Linked DNA regions of Homo sapiens: region 1 is linked to region 2. Evidence: fine-mapped QTL for protein levels in blood plasma. A gene starts in region 2. The other region holds a variant in brackets. All regions are shown on one strand. Distances are from middle to middle. Region 1 overlaps DNAJA3 (DnaJ heat shock protein family (Hsp40) member A3). Region 2 holds the start of VASN (vasorin).

The links. PIP is the chance, under the fine-mapping model, that this variant and not a neighbour inherited with it causes the effect. Protein levels are from antibody-based Olink assays in UK Biobank. Linkage for the fine-mapping came from a reference panel and not from the study's own genotypes, which makes the PIPs less certain.
Region 1: its variant is fine-mapped to the plasma level of the VASN protein (UK Biobank, PIP above 0.99).

Annotation. Positions count from the first base shown.
Region 1 is chr16:4,428,677-4,437,282 of GRCh38, reverse strand. DNAJA3 (DnaJ heat shock protein family (Hsp40) member A3) reads right to left here. Exons shown (of 12, transcript NM_005147.6): 2 at 2,766-2,899. Among named protein-coding and RNA genes, the nearest start is that of DNAJA3, 7.1 kb to the right of the region's middle. The variant G/A (reference allele first, on the strand shown) is at 858.
Region 2 is chr16:4,367,729-4,376,419 of GRCh38, reverse strand. VASN (vasorin) reads right to left here and starts at 4,572. Exons shown (of 2, transcript NM_138440.3): 1 at 4,427-4,572. All of the region lies in intron 9 of CORO7-PAM16 (CORO7-PAM16 readthrough), which reads left to right. All of the region lies in intron 9 of CORO7 (coronin 7), which reads left to right. RefSeq lists enhancers at 1-102, 103-884, 978-1,757, 4,365-5,190, 6,767-7,266.

The sequences.
Region 1 (8,606 bases), 61 kb before region 2:
AAGTTGTCTCTCGGCTGGGTGCAGTGGCTCACGCCTGTAATCCCAACACTTTGGGAAGTGAAGGCAGGCAGATCACTTAAGCTCAGGAGTTCAACACCAGCCTGGGCAACACAGCGAAACCCCTCTCCACCAAAAATAGAAAAAATTAGTCAGGCGTGGTGGCACATGCCTGTGGTCCCAGCTACTCAGGAGGCTGAAGCACGAGAATCACTTGAACCTGGGAGGTGGAGGTTGCAGTGAGCAGAGATCGAGGCACTGCACTCCAGCCTAGGTGACGGAGTGAGATTCTGTCCGCCCCACAAAATAATAATAATAATGATCTGTTTTAATGTATCCATCTCTTAACTTGAGGGCAGGAACTGATTCTGATGTATCTTTGCCCTTAGCACCCAGCATGGCTTAGAATAGGTAAATGAACAAAAAAGAAAAACAAATTTTTAAAAAGGGGGCCGGGCGCAGTGGCTCATGCCTGTTATCCCAGCACTTTGAGATGCTGAGCTGGGTGGATCACCAGAGGTCAGGAGTTTGAGAACAGCCTGGCCAACATGGCGAAACCCCATCTCTACTAAAAATACAAAAATTAGCCAGGTATGGTCACACGCGCCTATAAACACAGGTACTCGGGAGGCTGAGGCAGGAGAATTGCTTGAGCCCAGGAGACAGAGGTTGCAGTGAGCCAAGACTGCACCACTGCACTCCAGCCTGAGCCACACGGCGAGACTCTGTCTGAAAAAAGAAAAAATTTTTAAAAAGGGAAGAAAATGACTGAATAAATAGACGTCTCTGCTGTTTCAATTATTTTTGTAGGTAAATAAAATACAGTAATTGCTACAGCTTTACCTGATCTTTTTACTTCC[G/A]TGCCTAAAAATCTGAATGGTTCTCTAAATTAAGTCTTTCTCTTAAATTATGTCTCTGGGACTTACTAAGGGCCTCAAATCAACTGTCATGTGAGTCCAACCCAGCCTCCATCTTTTCAATCTTTTCCCACTCTTGGATCAGGCACCTGACTCTTGAGCTCAGGAAGAGACAGGCCATTCGCTCTTCACAGGCCAGGATCTCTGCTTCCTGTCCCCATGCCTCTGTTCATTCCATTACAACCCAATTAAAAAAAAAAGACAACCCAGTTAAAAGTGGGCAATGGATCCAAACACACGTTTCTCCAAAGACATACTAATAGCCAACATGCACAAGAAAGATGCTCACCATCATTAGTCATCAGGGAAAAAGCAAATCGAAACTCTAACGAGATAGCATTTCTTATTCACTAGGGTCGTAATTAAAAAGACAGACGATAATAGTTAAGTGTTCACTGGGATGTGGAGAAATCATGGCCCTCATATGCTGCTGGTGGGAATGTAAAATGGTGCAGCTGCTTTGAAAAAGGCTGGCAGCTTCTCAAAAGGTTAAACATCCAGTTACCATATGACTCAGCAACTATACTCCTAAATATCCAAGAGAACTGAAAACATGTCTACACAAAAACTTACATATGAATGTCTATATAGCAGCACTGTTCATGATAGCAAAAAGTGGAAAATATCCAAATGTCCATCAAACGATGAATAAACAAAATGTGATTAATCCATGCAACAGATTATTTGACCATAAAAAGGGATGAAGTATTGACACAAACTATAACACAGATGAACCCTGAAAACATTATGTGAATGAAAGAAGCCAAGACACACAAAAGGATACATATTGTATGATTCCCTGTATATGAATATTGAGAATAGGCAAATCCAAAGAGGCAGGACGCAGATTAGCAGCTGCTAGGGACCGGGGAGAGAGGACAATGGAAGGGGAGTGCTAATGAATACAGAGTTTCTTTTCGAGGTAATGAAAATGTCCTAAAGTTGACTGTGGTGACAGGTGCACAACTCCAGTGAACTGTGCACTTATAAAAAGCTGTCAATCCTACAATGGTGCCTCCAATATTGATTTTATTTTGTTGGTCAGAGCAAACCAAGGGTCTAGGAACCAGTGGTGTAGACATCTCGTATACAACTTTACTCAGCTACCCTAACTACCCTAATAGACCCTGGGATACAATGGGAATTTCACATTTTCCAGGTTAAGAAAGGGCCAGGCGCGGTGGCTCACGCCTGTAATCCCAGCACTTTGGGAGGCTGAGGCAGGTGGATCACCTGAGGTCAGGAGTTTAAGACCAGCCTGACCAACAAAGTGAAACCGCGTCTCTACTAAAAATACAAAAAAAATTAGCCGGGTGTGGTGGCAGGTGCCTATAGTCCCAGCTACTTGGGAGGCGGACACAGGAGAACTGCTTGAACCCAGGAGGCAGAGGTTGCAGTGAGCCAAGATTGCGCCACTGCACTCCAGCCTCAGCAATGGAGTGAGACTCCATCTCAAAAAAAAAAAAAAAAAAAAAAAAAAAAGAAAGGAAAGGAAGTAATTCTAAACCTCTAAACTTTTATCTGGATGCAAAAAATAACTACCTAAAACTTAGACTAGCATATCTACTGATTCAGAAAATACAGATTAAATTTAATTATGAAAACAGCTCTAGAAAAAAAAACTTCTTAAAATCTCTGGTTTGGACTCACCTCTTTTTTCTGAAGCACCAACCTCTACAGCATTGTGCATCGAAAAACAGTCTAGCAAAGTCCAGCTTTATCACACCCTTCTATACTATCAGCTCATGAGACCTATTCATATGGGCACATACGCTGTACTGATCAGGATCACATGGGATCAACAACATTCCTACTACAATTTGGTCACCAAAACCTGACTTCCATACAGACCTGATAATAGGCTTTCTTGATCTCTTTCTGGCTGGCATTTCGAGGCACTCCTAATATCTGATAATAATCTTCTTTGGCCAAAGGGGCACTCGTGTGGAAGGAGGCAGTACAAATGAAAGGGTTATGTTTTGTTCCTAAAAAGGAAAAAACAAAGAAAATCACTCTGGGAATGTTCTCAACAAAAGAAAACTGTGAGTACATGACCCACCAGGCTATATCTGTGAAGGAACAAACAAACTGATAAGGTTTGGCTGTGTCCCCACCCAGATCTCAACTAGAATTTTAGTTCCCATAATCCCCACGTGTCATGGGAGGGACCTGATGGGAGGTAACTGAATCACAGGAGCGGTTACCTCCATGCTGGTCTCGCGATAGTAAGTTCTCATGAGATCTGATAGTTTTATGAGGGGCTCACCCTTTTGCTCATTCTTCCTGCTGCCATGTTAAGAAGGATGTGTTTGCTTCCCCTTCCGCCACGATCGCTGAGGCCTCCCCAGCCGTGCTGAACTGTGAGTTAAATAAACCTCTTTCCTTTAAAATTTACCCAGTCTTAGGTATGTCTTTATTAGCTGCATGAGAACAGACTAATACACAGGCTACAGCTTTAGGGCTGTTCCCTAATGCACTTCAATAATGGCTAAGGAAGCCACAGTATTCAATTAATATTAAACTATGTCAGAGTATTGGATGAGGCTGATTCTCCTCGCTTATACTACTGGAGTGGTCTCAGTAAACCACTAAAGGAATAATACTCCTGACTGGGAGATGATTAAAAAGGGATTCAGCTCCCCCCTCTTATGCCACATGAGCACTTACCATTTGCTAGGTATTTTCATATTTTCATATTTTTCTGTCACATTTAATGCTTAACAACTCCCCACATTCTTTTCCCTCTATCTTGCAGCCTTGGGTATCTACTTAAGGAGCAGTTCTCAAGACTGCGCTCCCTGGACCAACAGCATCATTAGACTGATGAAAACACAGATGTTCAAGCCCTACTCCAGACATTCACCAGAAACTCAGGAGGTCTCCACCCACTAGATGCCAGTAGAGAACTCCCCGTCTCCAGGCATTGCCAAATGTCCCCTGGGAAGTAAAAGTGTCCCCTGCTGAGAACCAATGACAAATCAATCTAAGAAGGTCGGGGAAGAACTTCTAGGCATCAGCTGTTAAGCTGCAGAAACTGGCTAAGCTGCCCAGGAAAGCATTTGCCACTTTCAGTGGAAAACAAATGGCGGTTACTAACTAGGATGACTTTGTACTTTGGATCTGGATTCACAGCACCTTTTTTAATAGCAAGACACCAACTGCTTAAGAAACAAGGATGTTTTAGTTCATCCACTTAACAGATAGGAAGAGCAGGTTTTTTGTTTTTTGAGATGGAGTCTCGCTCTGTCGCCCAGGCTGGAGTGCAGTGGCGCCATCCTGGCTCACTGCAAGCTCCACTTCCCGGGTTCACGCCATTCTCCTGCCTCAGCCTCCCAAGTAGCTGGGACTACGGGCGCCTGCCACCACACTCGGCTAATTTTTTCATATTTTTAGTAGAGACGGGGTTTCGCCGTGTTAGCCAGGATGGTCTCGATCTCCTGACCTCATGATCCGCCTGCCTCGACCTCCCAAAGTGCTGGGATTACCGGCGTGAGCCACCGTGCCCGGCAGGCTTTTTGTTTCTTTGTTTTTTGAGACGGAGTTTCGCTCTTCTTGCCCAGACTGGCGTGCAGTGGTGCGATTTTGGCTCACTGCAACCTCCGCCTGCTGGGTTCAAGCGACTCTCCTGCCTCAGCCTCCCAAGTAACTGGGACTACAGGCGTGTGCCACCACGCCCAGACTGGAGGTGTTTTAATAGATGAAATCTGTTTAAAAAGTGAATAAGCCGGGCCGGGTATGGTGGCTCCTGCCTGTAATCCCAGCACTTTGGGAGGCCAAGGCGGGCGGATCACCTGAGGTCAGGAGTTAGAGACCAGCCTGACCAACATGGAGAAACCCCATCTCTACTAAAAATACAAAATTAGCCGGATGTGGTGGTACATGCCTGTAATCCCAGCTAGTAAGGAGGCTGAAGCAAGAGAATCGCTTGAACCTGGGGGGCAGAGGTTGCAGTGAGCCAAGATCGCGCCATTGCACTCCAGCCTGGGCAACAGGAGTGAAACTCCATCACAGAAAAAAAAAAGAAAAAAAAAAAGAAAGAAAAATAAGCCTGGGCACAGTGGCTCTCGCCTGTAATCCCAGCACTTTGGGAACCTGAGGCGTGAGGATCGCTTGAGCCCAGGAGTTCGAAACCAGCCTGGGCAACACAGAGACCCTGTCTCTATTAAAAATAAATAAATAAATGGATCAAAGACTTGAACTTATATGACATACTAGATGTTTGTAAATAAACTTATGACATGGAAAAAAAAGAGAGAGAGACAGAAATAGGCTAAAGAGGACTTTGAATCCATACAGATTTATACCTATAACTAAACTAGATGGCAGTGGTGGTAGTGGTGGTTAGAGATGATAACGATTAATGGGGCCTAGGAATAGGAAGGGCCTTAGAGCTATGCTAAGGAGTCTGGATTTTATCCTAAGAGCAATAGGGAGCCACTGCAAATGTTAAACAAAGAACCCATTAGGTTTGCATGAGAAACAACTCTAGGCCAGGCAAGGTGGCTCACGCCTATTGTAATCCCAGCACTTTGGGAGGCCGAGGCGGGTGGATCACTTGAGGTCAGGAGTTCGAGACCAAGCTGGCCAACATGGTGAAATCTTGTCTCTACTAAAAATACAAAAATTAGCCGGTCATGGTGGTGCACGCCTGTAATCCCAGCTACTTGGGAGGCTGAGGCATGAGAATTGTTTGAACCTGGGAGGCTGAGGTTGCAGTGAGCCAAGATCGCGCCATTGCACTCCAGCCTGGGCGACAGAGCAAGACTCCACCTGAAAAAAAAAAAAGAGAAACAACTCTAGGAAGCCTGGGAGACTACTCGAAGTTAATCAGCACAAAACACAACCAGAGGTTGGTTGAGCACATCCAAGTAGGAGGCCAGGTAAAGGATGATCAGACAGGAGAATGGATAGGAATGGTCAGGATACTTAAAATTAGAAATAGGAAATAAATCCGTGTGTTTGGCACACCCAATATCCTCGGGATACAAAAAGCACACTGGAAGTAGTAGGGGTCAGGAGACCACTTTGTGTTTCTTCAGTCAGACTTGAGAAAACACTAGACCTGACTTATTATTGAACTTGTACTCAACCCTCTTTTTATTTCGGAGTAAGGGGTTGCCCGGCCCAGTCCAGCCTCTCTCTCACCACTCATTCCAATGCCACAAGGCGGAGGCTGGTAGTGACCTGTGGCAGCTGTGGCTTCAACATTACGGGCAGAGAACACGGACAGGAGTTAGTACAGAGATAGTAACGCACAAAACTGCATGTGGATAAAGACAAATCACGTTTAATTACAAGACTGATGGCTTTGTTTTTTCTTTTTTTGAGACAGAGTCTCACTCTGTCACCCAGGCTGGAGTGCAGTGGTGTGATCTCGGTTCACTGCAACCTCCATCTCCCAGGTTCGAGCGATTCTTCTGCTTTAGCCTCTCAAGTAGCCAGGACTATAGGCGCACACCACCACACCTGGCTAATTTTTGTATTTTTAGTAGGTAAGAAGTTTCACCATGTTGGCCAGGCTGGTCTCGAACTCCTGACCTCAAGTGATCCGCCGGCCTCATCCTACCAAAGTGCTGGGGTTACAGGCATGAGCCACCATCCCCAGTCTGATGACTTTTGACATTATCCATAGGGCATCAATGATTAACAATAATTAGATTTCATTTAATAGACTATTTATTTTATCACATATGACCAGTAAATGTCCTGTCCTTTTTAGAACAACCCAGAATAAAATAAGCCTCCAAGTCGTTCTAAGAATGGCCAACCCACTGTCCAACAACTGCTTTCTTTTTTTTTTTTTTTGACAGGGAGTTTGGCTCTTGTTGCCCAGGCTGGAGGGCAGTGGCGCGATCTCGGCTCACTGCAACCTCTGCCTCCTGGGTTCAAGCGATTCTCCTGTCTCAGCCTCCCGAGTAGCTGGGATTACAGGAACCCGCCACCACGCCTGACCAACTTTTTCTATTTTTAGTAGAGACAAGCTTTGGCCATCTTGGCCAGGCTGGTCTCAAACTCCTGACCTCAGGCGATCAACCCACCTCCCAAAGTAATGGGATTGCAGGCATGAGCCACCATACCTGGCCACCAACAACTGCTTTCTTTCTGCTTGGAAGAAAAGTCACATCTAAAATGTTGTTATGTCATCTTACTACTAGATTTGAGACAAGATCACAGACTAGTGTTTGGACGCTGAGTTAATGACCTTTTCAAAATTTTTTTTTTTAAGAGACAGGGGTCTCATTATGTTGCCTAGGCCAAATTCAAATTCCTGGACTCCAGCAATCCTCCCACCTCAACCTCCTGAGTAGCTAGGACTATAGAGGCTCGCCACCACATGGCTTCTCAGTTGATGACTTTATTAATTTTTTGGTAGAGAAAGAGTCATACTCTGTTGCCCAGGCTGGAGTGCAGTGGCATCATCATGGCTCACTGCAGCCTCAACCTTCTGGGCTCAAGTGAAACTCCCACCTCAGCCTCCCAAGCAGCTGGGAGTACAGGCAGTTGCCACCATAGTTGGCTAATTTTTTTTTTTTTGAGACACAGTTTCGCTCTTGTTGATCAGGCTGGAGTGCAATGGCGCTAACTCGGCTCACGGCAACCTCCGACTTTCACGTTCAAGCAATTCTCCTGCCCCAGCCTCCCGAGTACCCGGGTTTACAGGCATGCGCCACCAGGCCTGGCTAATTTTGTATTTTTTGTAGAGACGGGGTTTCTCCATGTTGATCAGGCTGGTCTCAAACTCCTGACTTCAGGTGATCCGCCCGCATAGGCCTCCCAAAGTGCTGGGATTACAGGCGTGAGCCACCATGTCCGGCCACAGTCAGCTAATTTTTAAAAATCTTTTTGTAGGCCGGGCGCGGTGACTCACACCTGTAATCCCAGCACTTTAGGAGGCTGAGGTGGACAGATCATGGGTAAAGAGATCGAGACCATCCTGGCCAATATGGTGAAATCCAGTATCTGCTAAAAATACAAAAATTAACTGGGAGTGGTGGCACGTGCCTGTAGTCCCAGCTACTCAGGAGACTGAGGCAAGAGGATCACTTGAACCCAGGAAGCGGAGGATGCGGTGAGCCGAGATCACGGTGAGTCAAGATCATGGTGAGCCGAGATCGCACCACTGCACTCCAGCCTGGCTACAGAGCAAGACTCCGTCTCAAACAAACAAACAAAAAAAATCTTGGCCGGGCGCGGTGGCTCACACCTGTAATCCCAGCACTTTGGGAGGCGGAGGCGGGTGGATCACGAGGTCAGGAGATCGAGACGTCCTGGCTAACACAGTGAAACTCCATCTCTACTAAAAATACAAAAAATTAGCTGGGCGCGGTTGCAGGTGCCTGTAGTCCCAGCTACTCGGGAGGCTGAGGCAGGAGAATGGCCTGAACCCGGGAGGCGGAGTTTGCAGTGAGCCGAGATCGTGCCACTGCACTCCAGCCTGGGCGACAGAGTGAGACTCCGTCTCAAAAAAAAAAAAAAAAAAAAAAAATCTTTTTGTAGAGATGGGATCTGCCTATGTTGCCCAGGCTGGTCCCAAACTGCTAGGCTCATGTGATCCTCCTGCCTCAGCGCCAGCATAGCGCTGGAATTACAGTCGTGAGCCACCCCGCCCAACCAGTTGATGACTCTATCTGTGAAAACAGCACGTACCCTGAAGGATGCCACCTCTCACCTGTGTACACTACCTGATATAAA
Region 2 (8,691 bases):
CCTGAGACTCCGGGCCCCCGCTCCTCATGCTGGCCCGCCAAGGCTCTGTGTGGCCGGTCAGGCCTGGCAGCAGCCCAGCCCCGGGAGTCTGCCAACCCCTCCAGGCAGGCGGGACTGTGCCGGCGGCCAGGACGGCTGGCTCCAGTTTCGCTGACGTGTCCGAGGAGGCTCAGGGCCCGGCTGGGTCCGCCCCGTCTCCCCTTCCTTGGGACACAGCAGTCCCAAGGGCAGGGCAGAGAGGTCAGGGGTCGTGGGCCCTCACAGAAGGGGCAGAGAGGGCTGGGCCTCGAGTTCCTCAGGGACTGCGGCAGGTAGACCCTCCCTATAGGCGCGGGGACCCCTGGCTGGTGATTGAGCGGGGGTCCCCATGGGTGTCAGCCTCTTTCTTACTCCATCCACCACCCCAAGCTGGCGCTCTTCATTCCACAGATAATGCCACAGCCAGGAGCTCAGTCAGGCACTCACACGCTTTGTGACCTCATCCAAGCAAGCTCCCCTCTCTGGGCTTCCGTCTCCCACCTGTGACGCCAGGGCTTTGCCCGCCGGGCTGCACATCAGAATCATCCAGGAAGCTTTCTAAAAAAAACCTCCATGCTGGGGCCCCACCCCCAGGCCAATTAAACAAGAAATTCTGCCGGGCATGGTGGCTCACGCCTGTAATCCCAGTACTTTGGGAGGCCGAGGTAGGACGATCACGAGGTCAGGAGATCGAGACCATCCTGGCTAACATGGTGAAACCCCGTCTCTACTAAAAATACAAAAAAATTAGCCAGGCCTGGTGGCAGGCGCCTGTAGTCCCAGCTACTTGGGAGGCTGAGGCAGGAGAATGGTGTGAACCTGGGAGGCGGAGCTTGCAGTGAGCCAATATTGCGCCACTGCACTCCAGCCTGGGTGACAGAGCAATACTCCATCTCAAAAACAAAAAGAATGTCTAGGAGTGAGACCCAGGCAGAGCTGTATTTTGGAGAAGCTCCTTGAGCGAGTCCTCCGCACAGCCAGGGTTCAGAACACCAGGACAGAGGGTTGCAAAGGGGACAGTCAGGATGTCAGCTCGTCTTCCTGTGCAGGGAGGAGGCTCTGTATCCTGGAGCAGGTGTGGACCAGCTGGCAGGGCTGGGAGAGGGGCAGGCACAGGGTCTTCCCTCCTCCCTCCACCCAGGAGGCTGGCCCGGCCCCAGGTGGGTGCCTTCAGTAGCACCGTGGGTGACTTGGCAGCTGCCAGACCTGTTAGCCCAGGGCAGGGAGACCAGTGACTAAGGCCAGGCCCCAGCTCAAGTGAGCCCCTGGGGCGGTGGGACGTGCCATCGTAGTCACAAGAGGTGCAACCTGTCAGGGAGGACACCTGTGGCCCTGGGAGCTGTGCAGTGGCTGCAGCCCAACTAGAAATGGGCCAGTCCAGATGCCACTTTCGGCACGCGGCAGGTGTGATGCCACCAGGGCTGGGCCCTCACACGGGGCCTCCTCACTGCCCTGTCCCCACCCAGGGGCAAGCACCCATCTAGTAAGGCCCTAACCTGCAATTAACCCTGAACTTGCCAGAAGAACACCTTAGTCACCAAGGAAGGCCGCCAGCCCTAAGCTTCCTGGGCCTGGGGGTCTGAGAAGGAAGTGGCCCTGGAAGGGGTCTTGCCCTTCTCAAGCTCCCCATGCCGAACCCCCCACAATCACCCAGGGTTCTTGGCCAACCCGTGGCAGAAATGGCGCCCCTGGGGTCTGTGAGCTGATCAATGGGCAGGCGGGATGGATTCAGGGAGGCAGAACAGGACCTGGCCACTGAACCACAACCCTGCCCCCGCACTGCTCTCAATGCCCAGCCGGGCTCGGGGCCCAGGGCCAGCAGGGGCCCCAGCGGCCGCCCCAGCCCCTTCCCGGTGTAGGCCGGCTCCCTCCTCCCTCCTTAATTAAATCTCTCAGGCAGCCCCTGAGGAATGTCAGAACCTTATTGCATTCCCCACGAAGAGTCTGGTGGGGGCCGTCCCGAACCCTGAAGAATAACTGGCCCCTCGCCTGCCCCCACCCCCTGCCCAAAACCGAGGTGGCCTGAGGGAGCCTCCTCCAGCCTCCTCACACCCAGGGAGGCTGGAATGAGGAAAAGCGGGGGAGGCCGGCGGCCCAGCGCGGAGGGAAAGCGATCCGGCTGACTCTGGAATGTGGAAACCGATAAAAGGAAGGAGGCTGAGGCCCTGCCCCTCCTGGTGCAAGCAGGCTCCCCCAAACACCCCCACCCACCCCCAAATACACAGCCCTGCTCCAGTCACGCGCACACAGACACGCCCACGCCAGACACACGCCCACTGGGCAGTGCTCCTGCAGACACACACACACACACACACGTGCACCCTCCCCCTTCTCCAAGAACTCACGCAAATTCCACAGCAGTGAGGGGAGCTGGTTTTCTTGGCAGCACAGAGCCTTGGGCTCCCCAGCCCAGGGAGGGGACTCTAAGGGCAGCTGATGGGGGGTCCAGGAGAGGTCACTAACAGAGTTAGGTGGCCTTGCTGCCCTCCCATGAGCTCAGGGCTGGCCAGTGGTCAGGGATAGCCATCCCTGTGGGCAGCCTCCCCTCTACACACCTCTGCTCACTGGCAGGACTGGCTGTCTGGCCTGCTGAGGTGGGAGCTCCCTCCTGGGCTCAGCAGGGCCCTGCTTTCTTGTTCCCAGAGGCTGCCCAGTGTTGTGTTGGGACCCACTTATAAGCCCAGGCAAGGACTTAATTTTCTGTACTTGGGACTTGTCCCAGCTCCCCCGGGGCTGTCAGTGGGGGTGACAGTAATGGGAGCTAGGAGCCGCGGACCCATCTCCTGCCCGGGGCATCTCCCTTGCCATCTCCCTGGCCCCTGGGCTGCGTGCCAGAGGGGCCTTCCTCGGGTAAGCACAGGTCTGGGCAGTGTCTGAGAGGCTCCTTATGCTGAATCCCATTCTCCCATTCCCAGAATATGGAGAGAGAGGTGCCATCTGGACAAATGCCCTGGGACCCCAGCCCCCAGCCCCATCCCCATCTGACCCTCCGGACCCACAGGTAGCAGGACAGCTGTTCCAACGTGCAGGAGACAGGGGCGGGGTGGGGACAGGCAGTGCCCGGCCCCCAGGCTGGCATGTGTGTGCGCATCCTCCCTCCCCAGGCCCAGGGGAGGCTAGATAATGGTCTGGAGGGGATCCAGCTGGGCTGCTCATCACCAGAGCCTCTTCCTGCCTCTGACACTCTGTTTACAGAAGCTCCAGGCCAACTCCCCTGGGAGAAGAGAGTAAACTCAGGGGACTGCTCCCCATCCCCCACCCGCCTGCCCCAGCTCTGTTGGGTTTTTGTCAATAGCTGGGCCCATCCTGGACTTTGCTGCCCCCTGGACTGGCCCTAATGGACCCTGCTTGGAAGGTCCCAGCCCGGCCACCCCTCTATGCCCTCAACACCCAAAGTACAGTCTAGTGTGAAGGGACCTTGGAGATTTTATCCAATCCCCAGCCCTGGAGGCTCTCAGCCTGGGGAAGGGGGCTCTAGGTCCCGCTGCCTCTCTCCAGAGCCTCACCTGTCCTTGGTGCAAAAGGCAGGCATGGGGACACCTAGACCCCCAGGACCTCTTCCTTCCACCCTGCACACTCCACCCCTGGGCCACAGCAGGGGAGGCGGTCAGTGACCCTGGTGTGGCAATCGTTAACGAATGGGGGAGAGGCAGAATGGTTGGCACCAATCGGCTGGCCTGCCAGTGACCACAGGGGACCTCAGCAGTCCTCAGGCCCCAGCACTGCCAGCCCAGGGACACAAAGGACTAGGCTGGCTCCAGGCCACTGGGTTTGCAGCCCAAGCAAAGCCCCTTCCCTGGCAGAGGCAGAGACCCGGCACCCTGCCTGATACCCGAAGCTCTAAGGGCCCTGGCCAGTACAGGTCCATCCCCCACCTGGAGGGATGGGCATCGGACGCCCACCAGCCACTCCCCGCCCCTCCCTAGGGCTGCATATCTGTAGCCCCCAGCTGTGCTTTGAGTGACAAGGGTCCAGAGGACCCCGGGCAGCCCTTCTGCACAGCAGCACCTACTGCCGGACCCCAGGAGGGAAAAGTGACCCAAGCCTGTGGCTTGGCTATCCCCCTCAAAGGGGTTTGATTCATAAAACTGGTCATGCCGGAGGCCCAGCCGTGGGAGGAGGAAGCATGGGACGGGGTGTTTATTTTGTCTGCTTGCAGCCTCGCGGGCTCACCGCACACTCAGGCGCGCACCCTGGCCGGCCGCGGGGCTGTCGGCGCCCCAGGACGGCGGGGGAGGGAGCGTACAGGGCCTGCCCGCCGGGCGGCCCAGGTGACCGTGTGGGGCTGGGGCCGCGGTCCCGCCCGAGAGTGCGTGTGTGCGCGCGGCGGCGGTCCCCGCGCGTGTGCACAGCCTGGCCGTGGCGCCCCCTTCCCCGCCCGCAGCCCCCCAGCCCCACAGAAACTCACCGGGAGGCGGCGGCGGCGCAGGGAGCCGGGCGGGGCAGGCCGCGGCCTCAGTCTTTCCTGGCGGGTCGGGCCCGAGGGGGTCCTGGGTCCCGAAGCAACTGCGTTCGAGTCCGCGTCCACCCGCCCCGGGCTCGGGCTCCGGAGTCGGCTCGCTGGAGGCAGGTCGCGCCTTAAGAGTCCCGGGGGGCGGGCCCGCCGCGGCAGGGGCGGGGCCTCTCCCCATTGGCCGGGGCGGAGCCGCGTGGAGACACGCCCCTTCCCCACCGAGGGGCTCGTGGGCCGGGTTGCCCTGGCCCTCACCCTGCGGCCACCTGACCTGCGCGGGGAGACCTTGCCCGTCGTGGGTTTGCCGGATGACACTGGGCAGGTTTCTGCTTTTTGTGTAAAAAGCGAGAGACTATTTAGGAATCCTAAGCGTCACAGCCCAGATGCCTATGAGGCACCAGGCAGGTGACAAATGCCAGAAGTCCACCCCAGGGCCTCTGCGGCCCTGGAGAGGCAGGATGGCGGGAGTGGGGCTGGTAAGGGCTGAGTCCTCATGACCAGCCCGGGCCAGCTAGAGCTTTGGATTTTTGAAGAGAAACTGGAAATCCAGATTTTTAGGTGAAATCTCTCAATGTGTTATTGTTGGTAGCTAATCCCAATTTCAAAAAACTCCTGGCAGCCCACACAAAGCCCTTTCAAGAGCCTCCTAAGTATAAACTCCAATGCCAAATCTGAGCTCAGGGTCCTCTTAGCCACGACAGCCTTAAGAGTTGTGAGCAGCCCTGGACTCTCTTCCCCACCATATTATGAGATGAAGGGGCTGTGTCAGGGAGGGCAGTGGTGGTCTGCCCACGGCCCCACAGTTACTGGCAGCTTCAAGCCTGAGCTGTGGAGGCATAGGGGTGGTCACCGTCGGTGGGTGGGGCCTGGGCTGCAGTTGACAGTGGCCCTTGATTGGGCAGGAGGGGCGGGTGCCAGGGGCCGGACTAGTCCAGAAAAATCCCCTGCCTTGGAGGATTCCAGGAAAACACTCTGCCCTCCTCCCCCTCCGCGTTTGTGGTCAGTCATGCCTCAGAGCCTTTGGGGGCCCAGCTCAGCTCCTGACTTCCGGAGAGCCTTGGGACACCCACACCCCCTCCAGCCCGGCCTGTAGCCAAGGCCCTTGGCTGGGCTAGCTCTAGTCTTTGGGGGGCCTGAAGGCTTATCCCTGGGAGGCTGGGCCACACCAGCTGGAGGGTTTCCTAGTCTCTGGAGGACTCAGTTATCTCCAGAAGGCAGGATGGCCTCTGTGTCTAGCCGTCAAGGGCTAAGCAGGGCCTGGCTGGGACAGTCACCTTCTGGACCTCCCGTCCACAGGGCCCTCTCCCCACAGGGCCCCTTTCCAGGGCTGGCAGGGCTCCACAACCCATACGTTTCTCGGTCTACATGGATTAGGGCATGGCTTGCGGACCTCTGTTCCTGGGTTGGGGCTGGCCTTTGGGTGCATTTAGTGCAGGCTTTATGGGAGTTTTTACAACTTTGAAGGCACTGCTAACATTGAAAAATCAGGTGGTTTCATATTAAAATGGGGCTTCCCAGCTTGCATTGAACAGGAACTCTCAGCTGGGGCTGAGTGGCGGTTGCTCCCTCTGCCAAAATGTGGGCTCATGGGTCACCCCAGTCCCCACCACTCCCTGCTGCCTCCTGCCAAGCTGTCCACTCACTTGAGTTTCCTGCCCGGCCCCAGAACCATCTGAGTTTCCAATCAGTGCTGTGCAGCCTCTTGTCGGACTGTTTCCCTGCCTCTTCCCTTGGCCCTGTGTCCTCTGAAGCCCTCAGAAGCATCCACAGATGCCCAGGGTCAGGGGTAAAGAGGGCTCCAAGAGCCTCCAGCCTGGCTTTCCTCAAGGAACAGGACCTCCTGATGTCCTTGAAGCTTCTCACCTCTGTGGCAGGTTCTTGTAGACGGAGAGACCCCATCTGCCTGGTGTTCACCCCCTGCCCCAATCCTGTGCCCTGGCCTTACACAGGTCCCCACTTACCCAGAGGCTCAAGGGAAGCTTTTAGGAGACCCCTCTCAGTTTATCCAACATTGCCTTGTATGGTTTCAAGGTGCCACCCGCCTTTAGAACCTGGTTACCAGCAGTCTGCACACAGCGGGGGAGCTAGGGGCTGTGGGGGTGGAGGGGGGTCAAAGGATCCTAACTAACTCTCCAGCCTGGGTGATAGGGACAGATCCAAGGGACCCAGCCTGCTTTGAACTGGCGCAATGGCAGAATGTCTGGGTTGGTGGGAAGGGGCCTGAGCGGGAGGGATGGGCTGGAGGGGAGGACAGAGGAGGAGCCTTGCAGCTGCTCCTTGTAGCAAGCACACCCTTGGTGCTTCCCCTCGGTGCTAATCACAGGAGTCCTGGGAGAGCTGGCGGGGCTTATCCGGAGGCTGAAACTGCTCGTGCCTCCCAGTTGGTACTGAGGTTGTCTTCTAGCTCCTGGGACCTGGCTGAGGGGCGGGGGCAGATCTGGGCTTTAGACCTTCTATAACTTTATGCCTGGGACAGACCCCTGGACCTGGGTCAGGGTCAGAGCCCTTCCCAGTGGCAGGCCCAGATTCCAGCAGGAGAGGTGCCGGCAATACCTCTTACCACCTCTGGCCCTCTGCCTGGCTGGGGCTCATGTACCATGTTCCAGACCCAGACCCAGCTTGGCTCTCTTCACACAGCCTGGGGTCAGGCCCATGCCAACACTTGGCCAACCTTTGGGGCTGGGTGCCATGACCCCATTTCTTGGCCCGTGCCACGGCAGACAGGATGCCCCTGCCTGGCAGAGTTGTCCAGATGGCTCTGCCTGAGGCAAGGAAGACTGGCCTGACCTGTCAGAGGAGCCAGCCCTGCCCTCCCTGACTTCCTGCCCACTCGGCCTCAGCTCCTGAGTCAGTGGCTGGCTGGCTGGGACGATGGAACGGGGGTGAGGGAGGCTGAGCACCAGGCCTCCTCAGGCAGTTGGCTCAGCGCACAGGTGAGCCTCTGATGCCATGAGGTGGCCCCAGGCCTGTTTCCCACCTCTCATAAGGGCAGCAGAGGGGCCACAGGAGACCTGCCTATCCTACTTGCCCTCAGCTTCTGTCCTGGCACCTGTTTCCACTCCTCCCAGCCTGTGCCCCCAGCAGCCAGTGTGATCCCTACTCTGTGCCAGTCTGGTCCTATCCTCTTTCTATTTTTATTTTTTTGAGATAGGGTCTTGCTGTGTTACCCAGGCTGATGTGATTTTTTTTTTTTTTTTTTTTGAGATGGAGTCTCACTCTGTTGCCAAGGCTGGAATGCAGTGGTGCAATCTTGGCCCACTGCAACCTCCGCCTCCCGGGTTCAAGTGATTCTCCTGCCTCAGCCTCCTGAGTAGCTGGGATTCCAGGTGCACGCCACCATGCTCAGCTCATTTTTGCATTTTTAGTAGAGACGAGTTTTCACCATGTTGGCCAGGCTGGTCTCAAACTCCTGACCCAAAGTGATCGGCCTCCCAAAGTGCTGGGATTACAGATGTGAGCCACCATGCCCAGCTGGCGATGCGATCTTGACTCACTGCAGCCTCAAACTCCTGGGCTCAAGTGACCCTCCTGCCTCAGCCAGCCGAGTAGCTGGACCACAGGTGTGCACTACCACAGCAGGCTAATTTTTAATTTTATTTTTTGAGATGGAGTCTCACTCTGTCACCCAGGCTGGAATGCATTGGTGCCATCTCGGCTCACTGCAAACTCCACCTGCCGGGTTCAAGTGGTTCTCCTGCCTCAGCCTCCCAATTAGCTGGGATTACAGATGCACACCACCACACTTGGCCAATTTTTGTATTTTTAGTAGAGACAGGGTTTCATCATGTTGGCCTGGCTGGTCTCAAACTGCTGACCTCCAGTGATCCACCCACCTCGGCCTCCCAAAGTGCTGGGATTACAGGCGTGAGCCAGCATACCTCGCTAATTTTTTAATTTTTAATTTTTTGAAGAGCCATGGTCTCATGATGTTGCCCAGGCTGGTCACAGTGTTGACCTACTGGGCTCAAGTGATTCTCCCACCTCAGCCTCCCAAAGTGCTGGCTGGGATCACAGACATGAGTCACTAGGCCTGGCCTAGCCTCTTTTGCTTGAAACGCACCGTCACCTTTTCATTGCTCGTCCACTGGAGGCAGAACTCCCCCTCCCCACATGCACCAGGCCCCTTCCCGTCTAGCCTCCACCTGCCCATCCTGAGCCTCAGCCCTCACCCACACTGTCCAGGCTGTCAGGCACATTGTCCATCTTGTTCCTCAAACAGG